Regions from separate parts of the Homo sapiens genome. Here regions 2 and 3 are each reported to be linked to region 1. Evidence: microRNA targets listed by miRTarBase, many of them from high-throughput screens and not tested one by one. Region 1 holds a microRNA gene; each other region holds the end of a gene's coding sequence.

What was found. The annotated mature microRNA hsa-miR-5581-3p reads UUCCAUGCCUCCUAGAAGUUCC and lies in region 1 at 5,378-5,399, opposite strand. An mRNA with a match to its seed (bases 2 to 7 or 8) in the 3' UTR can be bound and repressed. Matches are read on the target gene's strand: a 7mer-m8 pairs with bases 2 to 8, a 7mer-A1 pairs with bases 2 to 7 and ends in A, and an 8mer does both.
Region 2: the mRNA of ZDHHC14 is a reported target of hsa-miR-5581-3p. Seed matches in the 3' UTR shown: 8mer at 1,358-1,365.
Region 3: miRTarBase lists DNAJB6 as a target of hsa-miR-5581-3p. The part of its 3' UTR that is shown has no 7-base or 8-base seed match.

Annotation. Positions count from the first base shown.
Region 1 is chr1:37,495,558-37,503,192 of GRCh38, forward strand. It overlaps MIR5581 (microRNA 5581), which reads right to left and starts at 5,437; the gene lies at 5,378-5,437. It overlaps MEAF6 (MYST/Esa1 associated factor 6), which reads right to left. Exons shown (of 7, transcript NM_001270875.3): 5 at 6,247-6,439; 6 at 328-361.
Region 2 is chr6:157,671,664-157,679,298 of GRCh38, reverse strand. It overlaps ZDHHC14 (zDHHC palmitoyltransferase 14), which reads right to left. Exons shown (of 9, transcript NM_024630.3): 9 at 1,142-6,575. The coding sequence ends at 6,177. Among named protein-coding and RNA genes, the nearest start is that of MIR3692, 150 kb to the right of the region's middle.
Region 3 is chr7:157,415,072-157,422,706 of GRCh38, reverse strand. DNAJB6 (DnaJ heat shock protein family (Hsp40) member B6) reads right to left here. Exons shown (of 10, transcript NM_058246.4): 10 at 5,268-6,691. The coding sequence ends at 6,609. Among named protein-coding and RNA genes, the nearest start is that of DNAJB6, 82 kb to the right of the region's middle.

The sequences.
Region 1 (7,635 bases):
CAAGGTGGCATGTACCTGTATTCCCAGCTACTCGGGAGGCCAAGCACAGGAGGTCAAGGCCACAGTGAACTGTGACTGTGATGATACTGCACTCTAGCCTAGGTGAAAGAGCAAGAAACTGTCTCTCAAAAAAAAAAAACAAAAAACAAAAAAAAAAAAAAACAAAAAAACCACCTAAAAGTTGAAGTATATCCAGATGGACACCCCAGACTTTAAATCAAGAGTTATGACTCCAGGTTAGGAACACTCAAGCTCTGAAGACAAATACATTTTTCTAATCATCTACAAAATTGCCAGCCTCTCTGAAGTGGTCCGGCTGATACTTACAGCTCGTGGTTTTTTGTTTAACTTCAGATCAATCCTGTGACAGAAAAGATAAAAGATATTTCCATTTTAATTTACAGAAAATGGGTCCCACAATCAGCTACTGCATAGGGCATAAGCTATAACAAAGACTATTTGGTTAAGAAAAATCCACATTCTTCATTAGACTATGTCATATTTAGTTGTTTACCCAGATATTATCAAGCAAGTATTAAAAATTATGAGCACACATTTTTGCCCTAAGGCAAACTTAGCTGACTCTAAAAAGAAATGTATACAGCAGCTACAAAAGCCATATAATTTTAAAACAATTCCAAAACTACATGTTAAAAAGACTGAAGTAAGAGGGCATGCTCTATGTTAATGTGTTAGTTCTGTAACTATATCACTGAAAATTACTGAGACACATGGTGATTAACAACAGGAAAGAGACTAGGAGTTTGTATTTCTGAACACGAAACACAAAATAAATTAAATTAATTTCAATTTTTAAATCTTTCCAAAGCAAAATATCAAGATCTTAAGCTATTATTCTCCTTATGAAGCAAAGCCAGAAAATCAATTTAAATATGAGTTAAAGTAAAGGTTATCTATTTTAAAAGAAATTAAAATGCATAAAAGTGAAGTTTACTTAATTTTGCTTAAGTTATTAAATAAAATGTTACCTCCATCACGTTTTTCTGTTTTTAAAAAAAACTTCCCAGCCTAACCTAATATACATACCTACAATTAAACAGATAAACTATGGGTTAGAAAGGTCTCAAAAAGGCATACTGGTGTCTACACACTAAACACAGCACAAATACTAATTCAAATCAAACTTACTCAAAGTCATAATCAAACATGCCAGACGGGCTGAGGGGCAGCATTTGAAAGGAAGAAAGCAATAGAAATTAATATACTAATTGAATAAATTAGTCGATTAGCCACCCTAGCAAGAATTGTAGAAACAAAATCAGCTTTAAGAATCTTAAGCAACAAAGTATCAAACATCAAAGCACCAAAGATTTTGTGGTCAGAAGATTCCCTTCCTTCAATGGATTTCATATCAGAAGACTAGACTATGAAAGAAAAAGTTATTTCATTAGAAAACTCAGACACCTGGAGCCCTTTTATTAGCTGCCAAATTCGGAGTTAGAACTTTTAAAATATTTAATTGTATTGAAAAATATAATTAGGGCATTAGAAGAAACAGAGAAAGAAAGGTTTAGTTATATAATGAAAGGCACTTTGAAGAGAGTGCTAACAACTCAGCATAATATACTTTCACTAAAATAAAAAACTACAACACAGTCTAAACTTTAAAAAAGGAAAACATTTCACAAATTTTTACTCAAGTTATATGGGTTTGTTTGTTTGTTTGTTTGTTTGTTTGAAACGGAGTCTCGCTCTGGCACCCAGGCTGGAGTGCAGGGGCGGCGATCTTGGCTCACTGCAAGCTCTGCCTCCCGGGTTCACGCCATTCTCCTGCCTCAGCCTCCCTCAAGTTATATGTTCTAAACATGTCCAGGGAACACCATGCTCCTTTTCTACAGCATTCATCCTAAAAGCCCAAAGTTGAATGAATAAACTTCAGTGGTGGAACCTTGTTCCAGAAAATGAAGAACAGTATTGCTCTGCCACCTAAGTAGGTGATGGCAATTAACTGTCTATATCAGGGCTATAATTAAGAAACACAAAAGTCTGCAGCACCCGTATTTATTTATTTATTTATTTATTTATTTTTTGAGACAGAGTTTTGCTCTTGTCACCCAGGCTGGAGTGCAATGGCGCAATCTTGGCTCACTGTAACCTCCGCCTCCTGGGTTCAAACGATTCTCCTGTCTCAGCCTCCCTAGCAGCTGGGATTACAGGCGCCTGCCACTAGGTCCAGCTAATTTTTGTATTTTTAGTAGAGACAGGGTTTCACCATGTTGGCCAAGCTGGTCTCGAACTCCTGACCTCAGGTGATCCATCTGCCTCGGCCCCCTAAAGTGCTGGGATTACAGGCATGAGCCACTGCACCCAGCCTGCAGCACCCCTATTAAAACAAGGGAAAGCTGCCATCCACAAGCACCCAAGTCTCAGGGATCTGGAAGGAGCAGTACAGAGAAGGAGACCATTTTGTGCCATCACCACTAGCAGGCCATGATCTGGGCAGGCCTCCAAAGCAAACATTAACCTGGAGCATGACACCTGCTCCTTCACCGGCTCCAACACCTTCCAGACTAAAACAATAAGCAAATGGCTACATTTAGGTGCTAAAACAATATGCAAATGGCTACATTTCCTCCTAGACAATGTTTGCAAGAGTAAAGCTGGAAGAAAGCTTAATGTCAATATCTCTCACAAAATAGTTTCACTTTAGACATTTGGGAGAGTATACAGTAGGTGTATGAAACTAGGAATTATCAAATATTTCACTTTCAGCCTGACTTGACTTTGTTCACAAATCAAAATAGACTGTATCTAGTTAATCAAAACTTTACAGACTATCTAAAGTAATTTTTTATAGTAACAGAAACTTATAAGAGTAGCTATGTTATTTTTTATTATTATTATTATTATTATTATTATTATTATTACTATTACTGAGACAGGGTCTTCCTCTGTCACCCAGGATGAAGTGCAGTAGCTCACTGAAGCTTCAACCTCCTGGGCTCAAGCAATCCTCCAGCCTCATCTCATCTTTCCAAGTAGCTGAGACTACAGGCATGCCATCACGTCCAGTTAATTACTGTGTTTTTTTGTAGAGACGGGAGTCTCGCCATGTTGCCCCCGGCTGGTCTCGAACTCCTAGACTCAAGTGATCCCTCCACCTCAGCCTCCCAAATTGCTGGAATTACAGGTATGAGCCACAGCACCTGGCCACTATATGGTATTATTTCAACTTTTTCTTTAAAGATACCAGGAATGACATACTGTTCAGGTATCATGTAAAATATAAGAATTCAGAACAATGTGATCACTTATGGATGCTAAAAATTATTTGATAAATTTTTATATTCTGGCGGGGTGTGGTGTGGTTCATGCCTGTAAACCCAGCACTTTGGGAGGCCGAGGCAGGAGGATCAAGCCTAGGAGTTCAAGACCAGCCTGTGCAGCATGGCAAAACCCCATCTCTACAAAACAATACAGAAACTAGCTAGGCATGGTGGCACATGCCTGTACTCCCAGCTACTTAGGAGGATGAGGTGGGAGGATTGCCTGAGCCCAGGAGGTCAAAGCTGCAATGACCCATGATCTCACCACTGCACTCCAGCCTGGGCAATCCAGCAAGACCTTGTTTCAAGAAAAAAAAAAATTTCATATTCCTGAAGAGGGCAAATTCAAGTTATTTCCTTTTGCTTAAGTGCCATATTTATTTCCACCTTTGCTCACCACTAAACAGTGTCTGGCACACAGTAAGTACTCAAACATTTGCTGAAATAATTTATTATTGACTCATCTCACTATATGGGGTATGGCACACTGGAGGATAAACATGTACTATACTGGGTACAAACTTAACAATGTACATAGACACCATGCTCTGTCCCCACCCCAATCTGCCAGCCCTACTGAGATATCAGTCAGCAGTAGTAAGGGACTTGGAGCAGACACAATTCCTGACTAAAGATGGCAGGAGTCCAAGAGCCTTAACTGACCGCTCGTGTGCCATTCAGGCACACTGAATTTTGCTTCCCTAGAAAGGAAACAAATCAGCTTCACTCTCCTTTCTTGGGGCAGATGAGTGCCTAAGGCCAAGGGAGATCAGCCAGATATTAAATCAGAGGGAAGACAAAAGGACAGCAATAAAAAGCAGGATTCTGCTTTCCAAACAGAAAACACTATTTGCGAAGCAGTAACTAATATCGAAGATTTTTACAACTACTACTATTTTTCTGGAAGGAGATAGCTCCTAGGATAGGAAGAAGTATTGTTCCTATGGAAATGTGCTAGAAACTTGCAAGAAGAAAATGAAGTTTAGCTCCTCTTTAACTCCTTTTTATCAGTCACCAGCTAATAACATCATTAGTGGAAATGAAGAACTACCTGAAATAAACAGCTATCTACAGACTATTAATCAGTAATGGGAAAAAGTCCCCGAAACTTTCAAAGAGTTTCCTCCCTACTCTAGACACTATGAAATAAGAAAATAATCACTACTTTAAAATGACACTAGGCCAGACACCGTGGCTCATGCCAGTAATCCCAGCACTTTGGGAGGCCGAGGCAGGTGGATCACCTGAGGCCAGTAGTTCACACCAACACAGTGAAACGTGTCTCTACTAAAAATACAAAAATTAGCTGGGCACAGTGGTGCACGCCTGTAATCCCAGCTACTCAGGAGGCTGAGGCAGGAGAATCGTTTGAACCCAGGAAGCAGAGGCTGCAGGGGCTGAGATCGTGCCACTGCACTCCAGCCTGGGTGACAGAGCAAGACTGTCTGAAAAAAATAAAAAATTAAAAAAAAATGACACTGGAGTAAATTTAATAAAAGCAATACAGAGCATGACATTTAATTATCTTGACAATTAAAAAAATTTTTAAGAATATATTTCTCTGTTATTCGTGATAAGCTAGCACCAGTCTTACTACAGTTGGTCAAATAACCTATAGCCTTTCAAAAATATATGAAGAGGTAGATATACAATTTTTGCTAATTCTTACTACAGTTATGCGATTAGGATGGTGACTTCTGGTTTGCAGAAAAATGTTAAGCAGCAGTCCTCAGTCATTATTTGAAGGAAATACTATTTCTGCAGTCTAGAAAACACCATTACCATCAACAAGAAAAACTCTTAAAATAATTGAAGAACCAGCTGACGCCAATCAAGGAGGTTCAAATCAGGTAGAGTTAATCCTACATTACCCCCAGGCACTGTCATATCCATGAAGCTAACAAGTTTAATACCTTGGGTGCATGAAGGAATACCCTACAGATTTGTAAACCAAATCCAGAAGCAAACTGGAGAACAGGGAATGCCACCCATCCCTTGCATTGCCCCCTTTCACCTGCTCAGCACGCAGTCTTCCAGGAGGAGTAGAACGAATGTACAGTTTCTAGAATGAGAACTCTTACCCTGGCTTCGGAACTTCTAGGAGGCATGGAAACAGGTATGTATAGGGTCTCCATTTCTCCTGGAAGGCTTGAGGCCAGCAAAACTCCTTACTCTAGAAACCGGACATTATACTCTTTAGGTCAAGCTGCATAATTTCCAATTATCTGAGTTAACAATCCCCAGCATGATCATACAAACCCCAGGCAGAGTGAATGCTGAAACCCTCTCTGGGTGACACCTGGCCTCTCTGTCCACTGACGTCATTCCTATCTCATTATGTACTGCAAAAAAACATGGTGCACCAATGTTACACGTTACCTATGAAGACACTCTCATATTTTACAGGCTTTATACTGTTCCTCCAGTATCTGAAGTCAGCATATTGCTGAGAAATACAGAAACAGAAAAATCACAAGCAATAAAAAAAACTTGTATTTAAAGAGAAAAAAAGGCATGTCAAATCAGTTCTCTCCATCCACAAAGAAATAAGAGTAGGCAAAGATCAGAATTACCAGCAGAAGACTTTATCCCACTTTACAGCTTCCCAATAAGTACCAGTGGCATTTTTCAAATACTATTACACAGATTCCATTTCTATTTCTCCTTTTCCTCTTCTAAAAGTATTCCATATTCACCATATGAAACAAGGTTTTTATGGAATAAAACTATTCTACACTAGAAACAGTGAGAAGAATGTCCTGGAGTCTTCCTTGAGGGTTACTCTAATGCCCACCAATTCCTCCCTTTGAGCAAATTAGCCCGTTCACTTGGACCTAATGACTTTCTTGCCATCAGCAACAGAAAGAGTCTGCAGCAATCCTAAAGAGTTTTTATTCTAGGCAATTCCCTTCACAGCAATGGTCATGGGAGCTGCGGGGGTGGGATCCCTGCCACTGACCTGTGCCGGTTTTTATTCTTTCGCTTTTTATGGCTGCTGTGGTGACTCCCTGAGGAAGTAGAAGAAGCAGCCTTCTGAGGTTTCACTCCCTGCACAGATCCATCCAGATCCTCAGGGTCCTCCTGGCTGGGCTCATTTTCCTGATTGTGGAAGTCTGGAGAAGTGTCACTTTCCGTCCCACTTCCTGGCTCCCCTGAAGGAAATAAAACACAAGTTTCCAAATGCATCATCAGTACTCCTCAGGCAATCTGTCCATCAACATGAACACTAATAGGTAGAAAAAAACCATTCCCTATCCTCTAATTGACAGAGAAGATACATGTTGACAGAGAAGATACATGTTGACAGAGAAGATACATACAAAGGATCCAAGTGACCAAAGGTCCTGAAAAAGCATGTAATCTGAAACAATGTAACCAGAGAGAACAGCTCTAAGGGCAGTTTTTGTTTTTATAGAGATGAGAGTCTGGCTGTGTTGTCCAAGCTGGTCTTGAACACTTGGCCTCAAACCATCCTCCTGCCTCAGCCTCCCAGAGCACTGGGATCACAGGCATGAGATACTGTGCCTGATCTATAGTCTTAAAAATATATATGTTTACACAAGTTGTTATTGAGTTTGCTTTTATTAAATGTAATCTACAGTGATGTACAAAAAAAACTACAGTGACTGTACAAAAAAAAAGGGGGGGCCAAAGAGGGAGAAGACAGCCCATTCCTGAATTACTCTGATAAGTTTTCCATTGTTTTTTCTTGTTTTTTTTTTGTTTGTTTGTTTAACCTTTAAGCTCTGTTGAACTTGAACCTCGTAAGTCTTTTTTTTTTTTTTTTTTTTAAGACAGGGTCTCACTCTGTCACCTAGGCTGGAGTGCAGTGGTGGAATCTCTGTTCACAGCAGCCTTCAGTTCCTGGGCTCAGATGATCCTTACACCTCAGCCTCCCAAGTAGCTGGGACTGCAGGTGCCCATAAGCATAAGCCCTGCTAATTTTTCTATTTTTTGTAGAGATGTGGTTTTGCCATGTTGCCCAGGCTGGTCTTGAACTCCTAGGCTCAAGAGATCCACCTGCCTCAGCCTTCCAAAGTGCTGAGATTACAGGCATGAGCCACCACACCCAGCCTGGTAAGTTTTATTTTATTTCATTTTATTTCGAGACAAGATCTCACTCTGTCACCCAGGCTAGAGTGCACTGGTGTGAACTGGTGTGATCATAGCTCATGGCAGCCTCAAACTCCTGGGTTCAAATTATCCTCCCATCTCAGCCTCCCCAGTAGCTGGAACTACCGGCACATGCCACCACACTTGGATACTTTTTTTTTTAAAGATGGGGTCTTACTATGTTGCCCAGGCTGGTCTCAAACTCCTGGGCTTAAGCAGTCCTCCTGCTTCAACC
Region 2 (7,635 bases), not on the chromosome of region 1:
AGAGAAGGGGCTGGGTCCTGGGTCACGGAGGAGAGAAGGGGCTGGGTCCTGGGTCATGCAGGAGATGGGGTCAAGCCTACTTTAGCAGGTAGGAATGCTCTCTAAAGGGAGAGAACAGTAGATGGATGAGGCAGAACTTTTTAGTGGGGAAGAGAAGGATGACAGAGCTCTAGCTGGAGGGTGTCACTCTTGCACTAATGGAGGAGATGGAATTTTCTATTGTGATTATCTAGTGAATGCTCATTTTCCCCTTCTTCCTGACCAACAGACCTCCAATATTATTTGGAGCAGGAATGTGCCCAGCTAAAACACCAAGCTTCCCACCCTCCTTTTTAGCCAGCAGTGGTTATGTGACTTAATTTCAATCATGGAAAAATCATAGATTGGGGTTTCTGGGAATGCTCTTTAAAGGGAGCAGTCATAAGTGTCTGTACCCATTTTGCTCCTCCCCGTTTCTCCTTCTTTCAGCTTACAATGCCACACAGACCTCCAGAATAGGTGGAGGGAACCAGGAGGAAAAGAAATTCATTTGAAAGTCTCTCTCTTTTGGAAAAGAATATGCTAGACTCATATGTACAGCTCATACGTACTTAATAGAAAACCTAAGGATATGGCTTTGATGGCTGGCACTGTAGCAGCTGTATTGTGACCATGAAGTGACCTTGAGGATGAGAGCCAGTGCTAAGAATGGCAGAACAGAGAGAAGGAAGCCAGGACATTGATGACACTGCAGAGCCACCACAATGTCCCGGGATTGCCTTACCTCTGCACTTGTTTTGCATACAGAAAAGACATTTCTTTTCCTAAGCTGCTGTGATTTGGGGATTTTGTTATGAGTAGCCAAGCACAGTTCCTCTCTGGTGAGGCTGGTGTGTGTGTGCCCACGCACGTGTGCATGTGTTAAAAGGTGGCATATAGAACATGCTGGATTAGGGACTTTAAATTTCTGCATTGCTCTAAAGTAGAATTGAAACTTGAGAACCACGTCTGAGGAAAGCAATCTGGGTATCTACGATCAGAAAACCCTCATCCTTATACAGATGGGTGTCCACAACGTGCATATTCACTGAGTGCAAGTCGATTCCTCCCTTCCCCACACATCTTGTTGACCAAGACGATATCTACCTTATAAAGGCTGAAATTTACATTTTATGCCATTAGCAGTTTTTATTGAAGGAGAAAAATTTTTTAATTCATCTCAGGTTTAAGATAAATTCTGCAAACATTGATTAAAACATGAAAGGCACTTAAATAAGCATACGTATCTCTGAAAACATGAAATGTTATGTACATGTGTTCACCATTGTTTGGATTTAGAGCTTTGAATTCACTAAGAGTTTAAAATGCTTTTTTTTTTTTCCATGCCAAAACGTTTGACTGTGAAATATCAACCCAGAATGCTCTGGGAAAAAGTTAGCAAGGCTTCAACCGTTTTTTTTTTTTTTTTTAATTGCAGGCTAAAACCATCTCTATTCATATAGAACCCAGAAAGCATGTCTCCTTGGACATGCCATGTGGCCTCTCGGTTTCACCAGGCATCTTGAAACATCGAGGGCAAGTAAGAGAGTTGTTCATTCATACCTTTATCACCAATATCAAGTTTCTTTTAAAAATTCAACACTTCCTGGGTAGAAAAGTCTCTGCAATAGCACAAGATGCTTGTCTGCTTTTCAATCCATTCTGTGTGTAATTCCTGGGGTTTATGAGATCAAAAAATAACTCCAGTTGTGGCTATTTATCTAGTTTTGTGGCAGCTGCAAATTCGGTTGCTCCAGAAACCATCTAATCTTCAATCTCCCAACTACTTTTAATGGCTGGATTAATGGACTAACACCTTACATGTGAAAATCCATCTTGGCTCTATTATCAGGACCATGGACAATGGGCAGATGGACAGAGGATTTACTGATTTACAAACTATTACCATCTTTGACATTTATTTGAAAAAAAAAAAGACGCTTCAGATCGTTTAATATTTCAATGATAACTTAGTTTTATGAGAGAGAGAGACGTTTTAAGGGAACAAATGAGAGGCAGTTTTTTTTTTTTTTTTTTTTTAAATGAGGTACCTTGGAAAATAGCATACAACTCCACATGCAGACCTCCAAAATAGGTGGAGGGGACCAAGAGGAATAGGAATTCATTTGAAAGTCTCTCTCTTTTGGACAAGAATATGCTAGACTCCCACAGCTCATGTGTACTTGATAGAAAATGTAAACATCAATTTGATTTCGGCTCAGCTTCAAAACAGTAGTAAGGCATCAATTAGAAAAGAGTATTTAATATTTGTTCTCCTTTATTCTTTTCTTACCTGGTCAAGAACTAAATGAACTCAATGTATTCTTGTGGATGGATGAAGGGCAGCTCCTTCTGGGAAGATTCCTTATAATATCAACGCAAACCCCGATCCCTTCTGGTGAACTTAAGACCCTAAGCCGAGGCTGAGAAGCAGTTGGTTCCTGGCATGAAGAGGATGGTTGTAGGCTGAGGTCTGAAGGGAGAAGTCAGGTTACAGAGAAGCGTTTGCTGCAGGGTAGTCAGGTGGGCAGAGACCTGAGACCCTTGGGGAGTAGCCCGCCAGGCTGTGCCCTTCAAAGTCTCTGACCAGTTCTGGTTCCAGCATTTTCTGGGCGATGCCATCAGAAGCCCCTGTGTCAAGGACACCTACTGCCAATTTTGGCAAGTTCATTTTTCTTGCTGTTGAGTCAGACAAGAAGGCCTAGGCCCAGGAGGTGAAGAGCTTAGGGGTTTTCAAAGCCACAGAAGGCCTGGCCCATCAGGTCTCCGCAGGAACATGGCTCATAAAATGGGTTTGCTCCTCACTTGGAACCACAGCTGGCAATCCTAGACAGAGCCGGTGAAGGCCGCAGTAAGCTGGGGGGTGGCGTGGAACTCTGCAAAGACTCCTCCCTTGTGCCATTCTGGGCCAGAACAGAGATTTCGCATTTTGCTGGCTTAGGGTGGGGACATGGCATTGTCCTCACAGGCTGAAATCATCACATTTGAAAGCTGGAACGAGCATCTTTTGGTTGGGCATAACGCAACTGCTGGGCCAATTTCTGCAGAACGGAGTGACAGGTCACTGTGCCCTCCTGGATGCAGTCTGTCTGCCACCTTCCTGCAGCATCCCCCTGCTTCCTGGGGCCCTCCCGGATGCAGGCTTTGTGCCGCCTTCCTGCAGCATCCCCACTTCCTGGGGCCCTCCTGGATGCAGGCTGTCTGCCACCTTCCTGCAGCATCCGCCTGCTTCCTGGGGACCAGGGCACTCACGCTCAGTTCAGCCTTCAAGTGCCGGGAAGCCTGTGGTTCCCTGGAGCACTCCTGGGAGAACGAACGCAGATGAATTTTTAAACAGCAGAATGAGTGTGTGTTTGTGTGTGTTTGATAATGGTCCAAGCTTTAATAGCATGGTAAAATATTTATTTTACTTTTTATAGCTAGCATGTAATCAATCTCTAACACACTGAAAGAAGTTAGAAACACCAACGTCTACTCAGCCACAGCTAGAAGGAACCATTCAACATTTATAAACATAAGTATTTATATTTATGTACATGTCACATATATGTTCGTGGGAAATGCAGAGCCATCACCTCGCCAGGTGAGCTGCCCCTCCGACCATCCCTCCTGACAAACAGAAGTGGGCGCCCCAGGGGGCATCATCGCTCATTCCTCTGATGCTGGGTTTCTTTTTCAAGCCACAGAGGACAGGGCTGTGGGCTTCTCTCTGGTTTTGGTTTTTAAGACATTAATTATCTAGCAAATTGGCCCATTCAAGTTAATCTCTCTCTTGACCCTGAATAGCCTTGATTCACTTCACCAAAATTCCCAGTCCCCTATTGGATAAATGATGCCAAGTGTGTGCCAGGGACAGGGTTGGAGGTGGGGAAATTGATAATAAATATTAAGTAAATATCCATTATGTGAAGACAAGTGAGTCGTGATCCTGGCTTCTGGGAATTTTTCACAGTGAGGTGGGAAGAAGGGCTGGTCACAGGAGAGTGGCAACCACTGAGTTAGGAAATGTTAGAAGCGGGAGGCCTCTGAAGACCATGATCTTGCTTTCCAGGGGAATGAGCTGAGAATGGACTGGGCCACACGTGGGACCGGAGTGAGGGCTAAGCCGGATTCGCGGTCACCCATGGAGCACCGTTCTCATCAGGGCCAACTCCTTCCTGGGGCCTCTGGGGAGCAGGTGGAAGAAAGCAAGGAGCAGAGACGGTTTGGGAAGTTGTGGAAGCTCCTTTGTGGGGCTGTCACTTTGGGCTCACAGGTAGCGTGGACAAGGAGAATCCCTGTGAGTTGGTGCCTGTGAGCGTGTGCGGTTGTGTAAGGAGGGCACTGCCCCATGAATTACACATTGCAGGTGGGTACAAGTAGTTAGGTGGTTCAGAAAATCAAAAATGGCTACATAGAATGGACCTATTCCATTTTCTATACGTGCATGCAGCATGACAATAAAGATGGCTCGAAGACATCACAGTGCAAGAACTCTGCAGGCCCTTTCAGCATGAATTATTTTGTGACCTGTGAATTGCCTTCATTCCAAATAAAACTTGTGTGCTTTTCTTTTTCCTATCTTCTTTTCTTTTATATAAAATGGCAACTCTTTCTCAGGAGTAATAGCCTTTTTCCATAAATGCAAATCACTTGGGTTACTTGTATCATTGGTCAATGTGTCTTGTCTTTCATATGGTTATAAGGAGCAAGGCCATGGCTTTGAACTTGAGTAGCTTTAGCTGTTAGATTTATGGTCTGGAAAGAAGCCAGGAGAGGAGTTGCTGTGTCCCCTGTGGCTGCCCCCATAGTGACACACTCCCTAAGTCCAGAGCCAGTTCGTTCCCTTCTAGGTGACCAATGAAAGTGAACAAAGTGGTCATTTTCTTAATTTCATTCTGATCAGTGTCTAGGAAGGATGATGACCTACATGATCTCAGCTTAGACTGTAAGCCGATTTCTCCTCCTCATTTTCTGATACCTTTACTAGGACCTCAAGTTGCACTTCTGGGATTGAGTGACACGTTAACACAGAAGGAAGCCCAGAAGACGCCCGACAGAACCTTCTCCCTGAGCGTCCCCTCCCCTCTCCCTACTTCCGATCAACTGTTGCACGGCAAACTGCAAACGTAGAGCAAATTCCACTAAGATGGTGTCAAAAAGAGATAATTAAAGAAAATAAATGATGGAAAACTTGCCTCTTATCTAAGAAATTATTCTATAAATATCTCCCAGTTCAAAGATTTGACTTTTGGTTGTCTGGGGACCATTCCTCGCTAGGGACATTTCAAGAAAAACTCTCCCCATCTGGATGACTTTGTTTTCATTTATGCTATTAAGGATAACCGTACGCAGATCCAAAATAACAGAGGACGTCATTTTATTGGCTGTCCACGGGAAGTTTCATCACACACGGAGGTGAAGACTGTGGGGGTTGTGGCACACAATATCTCAACACGAGACCTCATCGAGCGGCCAAACAGAAGGTGAAGTGACACCCGACACGACGGAACCCCAGCCGCCCTCTGCAGCCCCGGTGCCACCTCTCCACAGACGCCTCAGCCCAGTAAGCTGAGTGATGACACTGTCCATTAGTCTCAGTTCGTTGCACTGTCTTCCAACAAAACAGCACTTGAAAATTCACAAAATTAAAAAAAGAAAAAGAAAGCAGCACTTCCTTGGAAATAGCAACACCACTGTAACACAGACGGCAGCGTGGCATGCAGATCCACACCTGGTCGGTTTTTTCCCTTTAGGATTTTTTTTTTTTTTAATTAACAAATGGAATGGCAGGTCTGTTTCAAATATTAGTAGCATAACACATAAGTGCAATTGCAGTCTGGCCACAAGCGTCAGAAGCCTTCCGTGTGTCTGTCACAAGGGCGGGCAGACACACTCCGATTCCACCCCTGGAGGGTCACCAAAAGAAAGCAGCCACTTCTCTATTTCCATTGTTGTCAAAGCACTCAGGTTGGGGAAGAAAATTCAAATGAAACCAAGCTCTCAGCATCCGGGGCCAGCCACCCTGTGCCATCCTAAGTGGTCTCTGTACCCCAGACCTGGGGCTGTCATCTCCACCGTGGCATTGGCTGGGAAAGTCGCTGTGGGACACACCCCTCCGCTCACTCCTGCTGCCCATGGAGGAGCCTCTGGTGTCCCCCGGCCTGGGGCCATGTGGGTCACACGGAGCTGAGCTTCACCAGGCCGCGCACAGAGTCCTCATGCAGGGAGTCCTGGCTGGCCAGGCCCAGCACGTGCATGGTGCGGCTGTGCGCCAGGGGGCTGCCCGCCGCCAGTAGCCTGGGGGGCGAGGGCGCCTCATCGGGCGTCAGGAACTGGTGGCCCATGTGCTCATCTTTCCGGGGCATCACGTCCGCGAGCGTGGCCTCGGCGAGGTTGGGCATGGAGGCGGGCGGTGTGGGCGGGCCCAGTGTGAGGCTGGCGCAGGGCGTGCCCAGGCCAGGCTTCCCGGGCAGGTGCAGCTCGTCGCTGGTGAGGCTGGGCTCGCTCTGCAGCAGGGGCGTGGCTGCAGCCTGCAAAACGAATTTGGTGCTCTGAATGCACTGGTCTTGGTCGCACTGGAGAGCGGGAGGCGCCAGCAAAGAGAAGGTGGAGAGGAGGGGGCAGAGGTGGGGAGGGACAGGGATGGGGACAGGGCACGGGCGGGGAGGGTGGGGTGCGAGAAGAGAGAAACCGTTAGTGACACCTCAGTCAGCCAGGCAGGGAGCGCCTACAGTGGTCCAGGTGCATTGGGAGAGACACCCAGCGCCTGGTGCTGCAATTGCCTCTGCTCAAATGAAGTCACCACGGGTGCCCAGTCATAACATGCAGCCACTGGTTATGAAGCCAGTGGTCTTGGTTCCCAATTTAAAGGACATAATTAAAAAAATCTCTTGGACAGAGTCACAGGCCATCTACAGCAGTGGGTGGCTGTTTCTTGTATGCTGAAAACCATTTTTTAAACCACATTGTTTTAAAAATACAGGAGTTGTACACCCATGTTCATAGCAATGTTATTGATAGTAAGTCAAAAGTCAAAAGTGACTCAAGTGTCCACTGATGGATGACAGCAGGGACAAGGTGCGGTGTAGACACACAGTGTTACTGATTCAGCCTTAAAAAGGAAGTGCATTCGGACACATCCACGAGATGGGTGGACCTTGAGGAAAGCATGCTAAGTGAAACAAGCCAGTCACAAAAAGACGAATAACTGTGTGATTCCACTCAAACAAGGTCCCTGGAGGGTCATGTTCTTAGAGAGAAGGAAGAATGGTGGCTGCTGGGGCGGGAGGAAGAGGGAGCTGGTGTTTAAGGCATGCAGAGTTCCAGCCATGGAAGATGAAGAAGCCCTGGAGATGGGTGGTAGTGGTGGTTGCAGAACAACATCAACGGACTTAATACTACTGAACTTATACTTACAAATGGTTAAAGTGGCAAATATTATGCCATGTCTATTTTACCACCAAAAAAAGAAAAGACTGTTTGGTAAAAGCCTAGAATTCCCCACTGCTAAATTTCCAACAGCTTCAAGAGCCATTCCCGAAGCCTCTGTGGTCTGAGAATGCCCACGTTTGAGAAGACGTTTCCTATTCTTCCACGCGTTCTTAAGTCACATGATATCTGCCTCGTGTCCTCTGT
Region 3 (7,635 bases), not on the chromosome of region 1:
CAGCCACTCACGAATGGTAGTCCAGACCCCAGATGCCGCTGCATAGCAAGGCAGCGGGAGATGAACGAGCTACCAGTCTCTGAGAGTGGAAGGGCCAGCACAGAGGTGAGAGACCCTCCACACCCTGGAGGAGCATGGCCCCAGCACCCCTACGGTGACTGCACTCAGCGTCTCCAGCAGGACCGCCAGGTGCGCACGGGGCTCCGCCACACAGGAGGAGGTGCCCGCGTCTCCTGCCCCACGCACGGGTTGTGCTGGGCCCAGATGTGTGACTGCAGGTCCTACGGCCCCCAGGACCTGCACAGGGGGCAGAGGATCCAGGTGAGCAACTCGGGGCGGGGGCAGGGGCAGGTCCGGAATGCGGCAGGTCTGCCGGTGAGGCGCACGGCCCTCCAGACGCCCAGGAAGGAAAAGCAAAGGCGGGAGTGAAGGATCGCCTCATGTTTATTTAAATATTATGTAATTAAGTTATAAATAAAAGTAACTTTTGTTTATGTTTAATGTATTGAAATGGAAGGAAATAAAAACAAATGGAAATGAAAGCCCATTGGGGCAGGTGCGGAAGCCGGACTCCCCTGAGGGCGCCTTGTTTGTGAATTCTGCTTTGGAACCATGCACATATTTACAGCAAACATTTCTTAAATCCTAGACGTTGAAAGTAAAAGAAAATAAATGAAGCTAAGGGTCTACGGAGTTGTTGGCTTAGCCACACCAAGAGGGATTATCTCAAGATTTATGCATCCCAGTGTCACAGCCTGAGAACAACCATGGGGCCGGGCGCGGGGGCTCACCCCTGTCATCCCAGCACTGGGAGGCCGAGGCGGGTGGATCACCTGAGGTCAGGAGTTCGAGACCAGCCTGGCCAACGTGGCAAAACTCCGTCTCTACTAAAAATACAAAAATTAGCTGGGCGTGGTGGTGCATGCCTGTAATCCCAGCTACTCGGGAGGCTGAGGCAGGAGAATCGCTTGAACTGGGAGGCGGAGGTTGCAGTGAGCCGAGATCGCACCACTGCACTTTAGCCTGGGCGACAGAGCGAGACTCCGTCTCAAAAAAAAAAAAAAAAAAAAGAAAGAAAGAAAGAGAAAAAGGATCGAAGAGCTCTCTCTGAATTTTAAAAATTTTTTTAAATTTTTAAATTATTATATTTTCTATATATCAAATTTTCTATATGTCAAATAAGTAACTATGTTATGTATTAAGAACTAAAAATCTGGCTGGACGTGGTGGGCTCACACCTGTAATTCCAGCACTGTGGGAGGCCGAGGCGGGTGGATCACCTAAGACCAGGAGTTTGAGACCAGCCTGGCTGATATGGTAGAATCCCATCTGTACTAAAAATACAAAGTGAGCCGGGCGTGGTGGTGGGCACTTGTAATCCCAGCTACTCGGGAGGCTGAGGCAGGAGAATCACTAGAACCCGAGAGTTGGAGGTTGCAGTGAGCCGAGATCACACCACTGCACTCCGGCCTGGGTGACACAGCGAGACCATCTGAAAAAAAAAAAAAAAATTCAAATTCTCAGAGTAAAAGAAAAAAATCTGATATAAAATCTAAATAGTGAAAACCCTGTAATCCTAAATTTGAACTGGAAATATTAATATAAATTCTTTATATTATATATCCTAATATGAATTTTCTCTTTAAAAAATACTCTCTCCCTCCGTCCACAGAGGCAGCCTTGGGGTCTCCAGGCAGGACCCAGAGCAGCCGAGGCCCTGAGGCCAGCACGAACTGCAGGCACCGAGGAGTCTGTCGCCCCAGGATGCGGCCATCCGAGCTTCCAAGGGCAATGGCCTCAACCGTGAAACACCACAAGTGCGATCACAGCTTGTGGGCTCACGATGGAACTAACAGAGCCGCTGGTCACCTCGGGGTCCTCGGAGGAGCCAGGGAGCCAGCCAGTGGCTCTAGACACTGGGACTCGGGAAAAACAAGAATGTGCGGGGCCTTTTGAAGCAGAAACTGTACCTCTGGGACCCAAGCAGTGGATAAGGGAAAATCCGTCTTTACAGAATTCCAGCTAAGAAATTTGGAGGAAAGGCAGGTCAGATATTGACAGATGAAGTCATGCATAGCCCAGGACTTACTTCAAAACATGATGGCGGGTGCGGTGGCTCACGCCTATAATCCCGGCACTTTGGGAGGCCGAGGCAGGTGGATCACTTGAGGTCAGGAGTTCGAGACCAGCCTGGCCAATATGGTGAAACCCCCGTCTCTACTAAAGATACAAAAATTAGCCGGGCACGGTGGCGGGCGCCTGTAGTCCCCACTACTCCGGAGGCTGAGGCAGGAGAATCGCTTGAACCCAGGAGGCAGAAGTTGCAGTCAGCCGAATCACACCACTGCACTCCAGCCTGGGCCACAGAGCAAGACTCTGTCTCAAAACAAAAACAAAAACAAAAAAACATGATGGGGAGGGGGTGCAGATACACAAGAGGGGCGGGCGCTGTGCACCTCTGGGCCAGGGAGAGGGATTCATTTCTACAGTTACCTGTTCCAAGCACACAATTTGGACATTAAGATTTTTCATAATAAAAGGTAAAAGCGTACAGAGACCTAATACACGTGACGACTAAATGCAATGTGTAGTCTTGACTGAAGTCTAGTTTAAAAACATCACAGCCCGGGGAGACTGATTTGAGTAACAATAAAACTCCAGTCTCCTGCAAAAAAAAAAAAAAAAAAAACAAACAAAAAAATTACGGGCCAGGCACAGTGGCTCACGCCTGTAATCTCAATACTTTGGGAGGCTGAGGCAGGCAGATTGCTTGAGCCCAGGAGTTTGAGACCAGCCTGGATGATATGGTGAAATCCTGTCTCTATAAAAAATTTAAAAATTAGCCAGGCATGGTGGTACAGCTGTAGCCCCAGCATGTTGGGAGGCTGAGGTGGGAGGATCGCTTGAGCCCAGGAGATCAAGGTACAGTGTGCTATGATTGAACCACTGCACTCCAGCCTGGGTGCCAAAGTGAGACTCTGCCTCAAAAAAGAAAAGAATAAAAGTAAATAGTTTCTGAAAATGGACTGAGAAGTAGCTGGCATGGGGGAATTACTAATTTTCTGAGGTGTGATAACGGTGCCACGGCTCTCCCGCCTAGGTGACGGAGTGAGACTCCATTGCAAAAAAACAAACAAACAAAAACAAAACAAAATGTGTTAAACACAGGTGTGGTTATTCACGTCATGGTCCCACTTTTCCAGGCCTATGAACAAAAGAGCAGAGAGCTCTCCCTGGTGACGGCGCCACGTCCTGGTTCTGTCTCCAGCTGTGCAACCCACATGAGGGAAGGCACGTGGGACCCCCAGGTTAGGGTTAGGGTGTGAACGTTTCAGGATGTTTAAATGTATTTACTTACAGAAAGTGGGTTCTGCAGCCCTTTATGCCCCTGACAAAAGTGAATGGCGTACAGGGTGGCCCTGGGATTGGCAGTGGGGTGGCCAGGAAGCCCCACTGTGGTCCTGACACCCCCAGGACTCCCCACCCCAGTCCCACAACTGCAGTCCCTGCCACACCGTCCACAGCCCCCCTGCCTCCCACCCACCAGCACCTCACTGCCTTCCCCACCCCCCGCAGGGCCCCCCAGTGCTTGGGACGTCACAAAGGTGACGACGACAGGTGCCGCGCTCCCCCTTGCCATCATCTCAGCAGCTGCCGAGCACACCCAGGGGCCGGGCTCCCTCTCCACCCCCTCAGCAGACGCTGGCATAAGCAGCCGCGGGCTCTATCTGCAGCATCCACCCCCTCAGCAGACGCTGGCATAAGCAGCCGCGGGCTCTATCTGCAGCACAGAGCTCCTGGACCCGCCCTAGGGGGATGGGGCGCTGGGCGCAGGGGTCGGGTAGACCCCAATACCCCTCCTCACCTGAGAAGCAGATGCCTACCTGCTGGCCATGCACCTGCCGGGCCCCATGGACACCAGCTCCCTTCTCCTCCTGGGGTCGGGGTCTCTCCCTCTCAGCGAAGGGAGGACCCACCTGTGACATGAGCTGACTCGGTAGCCAGGCCGTGTGAAGACGGGGCTCTGGCCCCTTTGCCAAGAGCCTGTCTTGTGTGTGGCCTGGCTTGTCTGGAAGGCGCTCGCGGCTCTGTCCACGCTCCCTAGCTGTGCCCCTGCTGAGGCAGCCCGGCCACGCTCCTGGGACGGCCTGAGGGTCAAGTGGGCAGGGTTGAGGGCACAACAGTCACCTCTAAACCTGTCGAACCACCTGCCTCCCTCGCCACAATCTCAGCAGCAGATTCTGGGATCTGAGCAGTTGAGAAGGACTAATCTTGTTTTAAAAACACCCCCGACCCCGGCCCGCAAGGCGACTTACTGCACCGCCTTCCCCTGTCACCAGGAAGGCCGGACGCCAGGATGTCAGCACTGAGCGCGTGTCTGGCCCAGTCTTGGTCGCCAGCAGAGCCAGGGTGAGTCGACGAGGTTTTCCTCTCGGGACCCTCAATGCCTCCTGTGAAGGCTGCGGGAGTTTCCACCTCATCTGTGCGTTGGGGTGTTACTTTTTTGTTGTTGTTGTTGTTTTGAGATAGAGTCTCGCTCTCTCTAGAGTGCCGTGACGCAATCTGGACTCATTGAAAGCTCTGCCTCCCGGGTTCACGCCATTCTCCTGCCTCAGCCTCCCAAGGAGCTGGGACTACAGGCACCCGCCACCACGCCCGGCTAATTTTTTGTATTTTTTAGTAGAGACGGGGTTTCACCGTGTTAGCCAGGATGGTCTGGATCTCCTGACCTCGTGATCCACCCGCCTCGGCCTCCCAAAGTGCTGGGATTACAGGCGTGAGCCACCGTGCCCGGCCTTTTTTTTTTGAGACGGAGTCTCGTTCTGTCTCCCGGCTAGAGTGCAGTGGTGCGATCTTGGCTCACTGCAAGCTCCGCCTCCCTCGTTCAAGAAATTCTCGTGCCTCAGCCTCCCGAATAGCTGGGATTGTAGGCGTGTGCCACCACACCCGGCTAATTTTTTGTATTTTTAGTAGAGATGGGGTTTCACCATGTTGGCCAGGCTAGTCTTGAACTCCTGATCTCAGGTGATCTGCCCACCTTGGCCTCCCACAGTGCTGGGATTACAGGCGTGAGCCACTTTGCCCAGCCGGGGGTGTTAGCTTTAAAGTCATGTTTTCGCCTTACAGTGACGCATTTCGGAAGCAAGGCTTCTGCCTGCAAAACACCACTTTCATCCTTTGTAATCGTAATGTTGAAGAATTGCTTTTATTTCTAGTCAGTCTTAACGGTGCAACTTACTGGCGCTTACAAAGGACAGCAGGCGAGCTGTATTCAATATGCTTATGTTTTATTTATGTAGGTGGCATTTAAAATACATGATGTGTTTAGGGTTACATTGTCCACAGAAAGCATCAAATACCACTCCTCTCCCCGCCAAAACCAAATAAACAAAGCCAACTCTTTGGCAACAGTTGTGTTAAATAAAATCCCAGGTCACACTTGTTTCTGGCTCCCAAGCCTGGGTCACTGCTACATGGATTGCGCCAAAAAATTCCCAGCTTCAACACTGCTAGATTAAAATTGCTGGCATTTTTAAATCACAGCAAAGCTTTTCACAATGCCCTCAAGTCCAAGAGGACAAAGGAGAAAGCAACATGAACGGCAGATCCTCATGTGAAAGGGAAGGAAAGTCACTGGGAGGGAGCATGCAGGGAAGAAGTCAAGGCAGCCCTGGAATTCTACTCCGTGCTCAATAAAAACAAAACGTGAAGAAGCAATACATCATGCAAACGAAATAATGACCGGAAGTGGGCGCATCTAGTTAGAATGAAGTGACTTTCGTAAGGAGTCAATGTTCGCGAACTGAAACATGAGTTCAACCTCCTTGTGCCGTCTCTGGGTGTTTTGCGCGTGTGTAAATACCGGCCCGTTTTCCCCAGCATGGCCCTAACCCATGGACACTAGGGAGAGTGCCACTGAGCAAAAATTTTTTGCTAAAAATAATTAGCAAAAATCCAAGAAAAAAATATGGAATCTAGCAAAACCTACACCATATTTGAAGTTGAATTTGCACTACCTGCAAAGGATGAAAATTAAAAGAGTAAACAGAAGGAATGATTTTACATCTGATGTGATTCACGACAGCCTTCTATTCGTGTGGCCGGATTGCTCTGAGGAAAAGGTGCCCTGACGGGCAGGATTCAATGTGTCACTTGCAATATTCTCTAAGTTACACTCTACTGAATTACCTTCTAATTCCAAACACTACGCCGCCACAGAAAGCCTCATTTCATGAATGTTACTCAGTTAGCCATCTGCGCCCTCCTGTACTTCTAAAGCCAGAAATATTCCAGCAGCATGCGGAGTGGTTGAGTAGCCGAAAAGAATGAAGAGGATCCGGAAGCACTAGAGGAAAATGCAGCAGATTGAGAGCTGGAGAGAAGCAGAGAGTCGCGGCCAAGTCCCAAACGTCTGTCCCCGCCACCCGTGCCGTCAGCCCCGTCTCCTGACCCTGCTCTGACTGATCCGTGATCGCATAATCCTGCCGAGCGAGTGTGGCCTCGAGACAGTCCTGACCGACGCTGCTACCTAGCGCGTGTGCACGACCGCATGCCGAGCACGGTGGAGCGCCAGCGTCTGGGGGTGCACCGCGTGCCTCAAGTCCGGTCTAGTGATTGCCTTTGGTCGACTTCTTCTTCTTCGACTCCTCTCTCTGCTTCTGCTTCTTCCTCTTGCCACCTTCTTTCAATCCTAAGGAAACACGGCTTGTAAAACACTGTACGGAACAGCACTGCTTCCCCAGCAAGAGCCAAACATGTTTTCTAAATATCTCCCCATGTTAAGAACAAAAAGCAACAAAATGAAGTCATCTATCTTGGCCACAGCTAAACCTCAAAACGGGCGCTTTCCAAGGTGCACGTTGAGAACTGCTCACACTACCCAGAGAGCTTCACCACCCTGCAGAGAAGTGAGGACTCCCACCTACCCGAGTTCCGCCCAGCGGCAGAGCTAAAAGCCCACCCTGGGACTACCCCAGTTCTGCCCAGCGGCAGAGCTAGAAGCCCACCCTGGGCACGGCTGCACCTCAGTCCTGGAACCCCACCCTGGGACCTACCCCAGTTCCGCCCAGCGGCAGAGCTAGAAGCCCACCCTGGACACGGCTGCACCTCAGTCCCGGAACCCCACCCTGGGCTCTCCTTCAGAACGCACACTGGGCCTGCGCAAAGGTGTGCCCACCTGTGGGGAGGGTGTCCACAGGTGTCTCCTCCGCTTCCCCCGCTGGCCACAGTGCAGCCTTTCTGCAGGCAAAGCCTTGGTGTGGACTGGCCTCATGTTTGCCAGCTCTGTGCCATCCAGCGTGAGAAAGTCCCATTTCTTATTGAGGAAAGTCTTTCATTTCCCTGTTGCTAAAGTCAATGGCTGACACTGACTGATCCAGCTGAAGTGCATGGAGAAAGACGCCCACCCTCTGAACGTCTGATCCAACGTGCCAGAAATAAACACCTCTGGATTCATTTCTGCAGAAACTGTCTTGAACTCAGTGTGTGCCAACGTGGGTGCAGGAAACAGGCCCGATGTTGAATTTGGCCACAATTGTCAACATGACTGGGCAGAGGGAACATGGCCGGCAGCAGGCAGGGCAGGCCTGGGTCCCACACGCACAGGCCCTCAACCTGCCAGAACTCTCCAAAGAC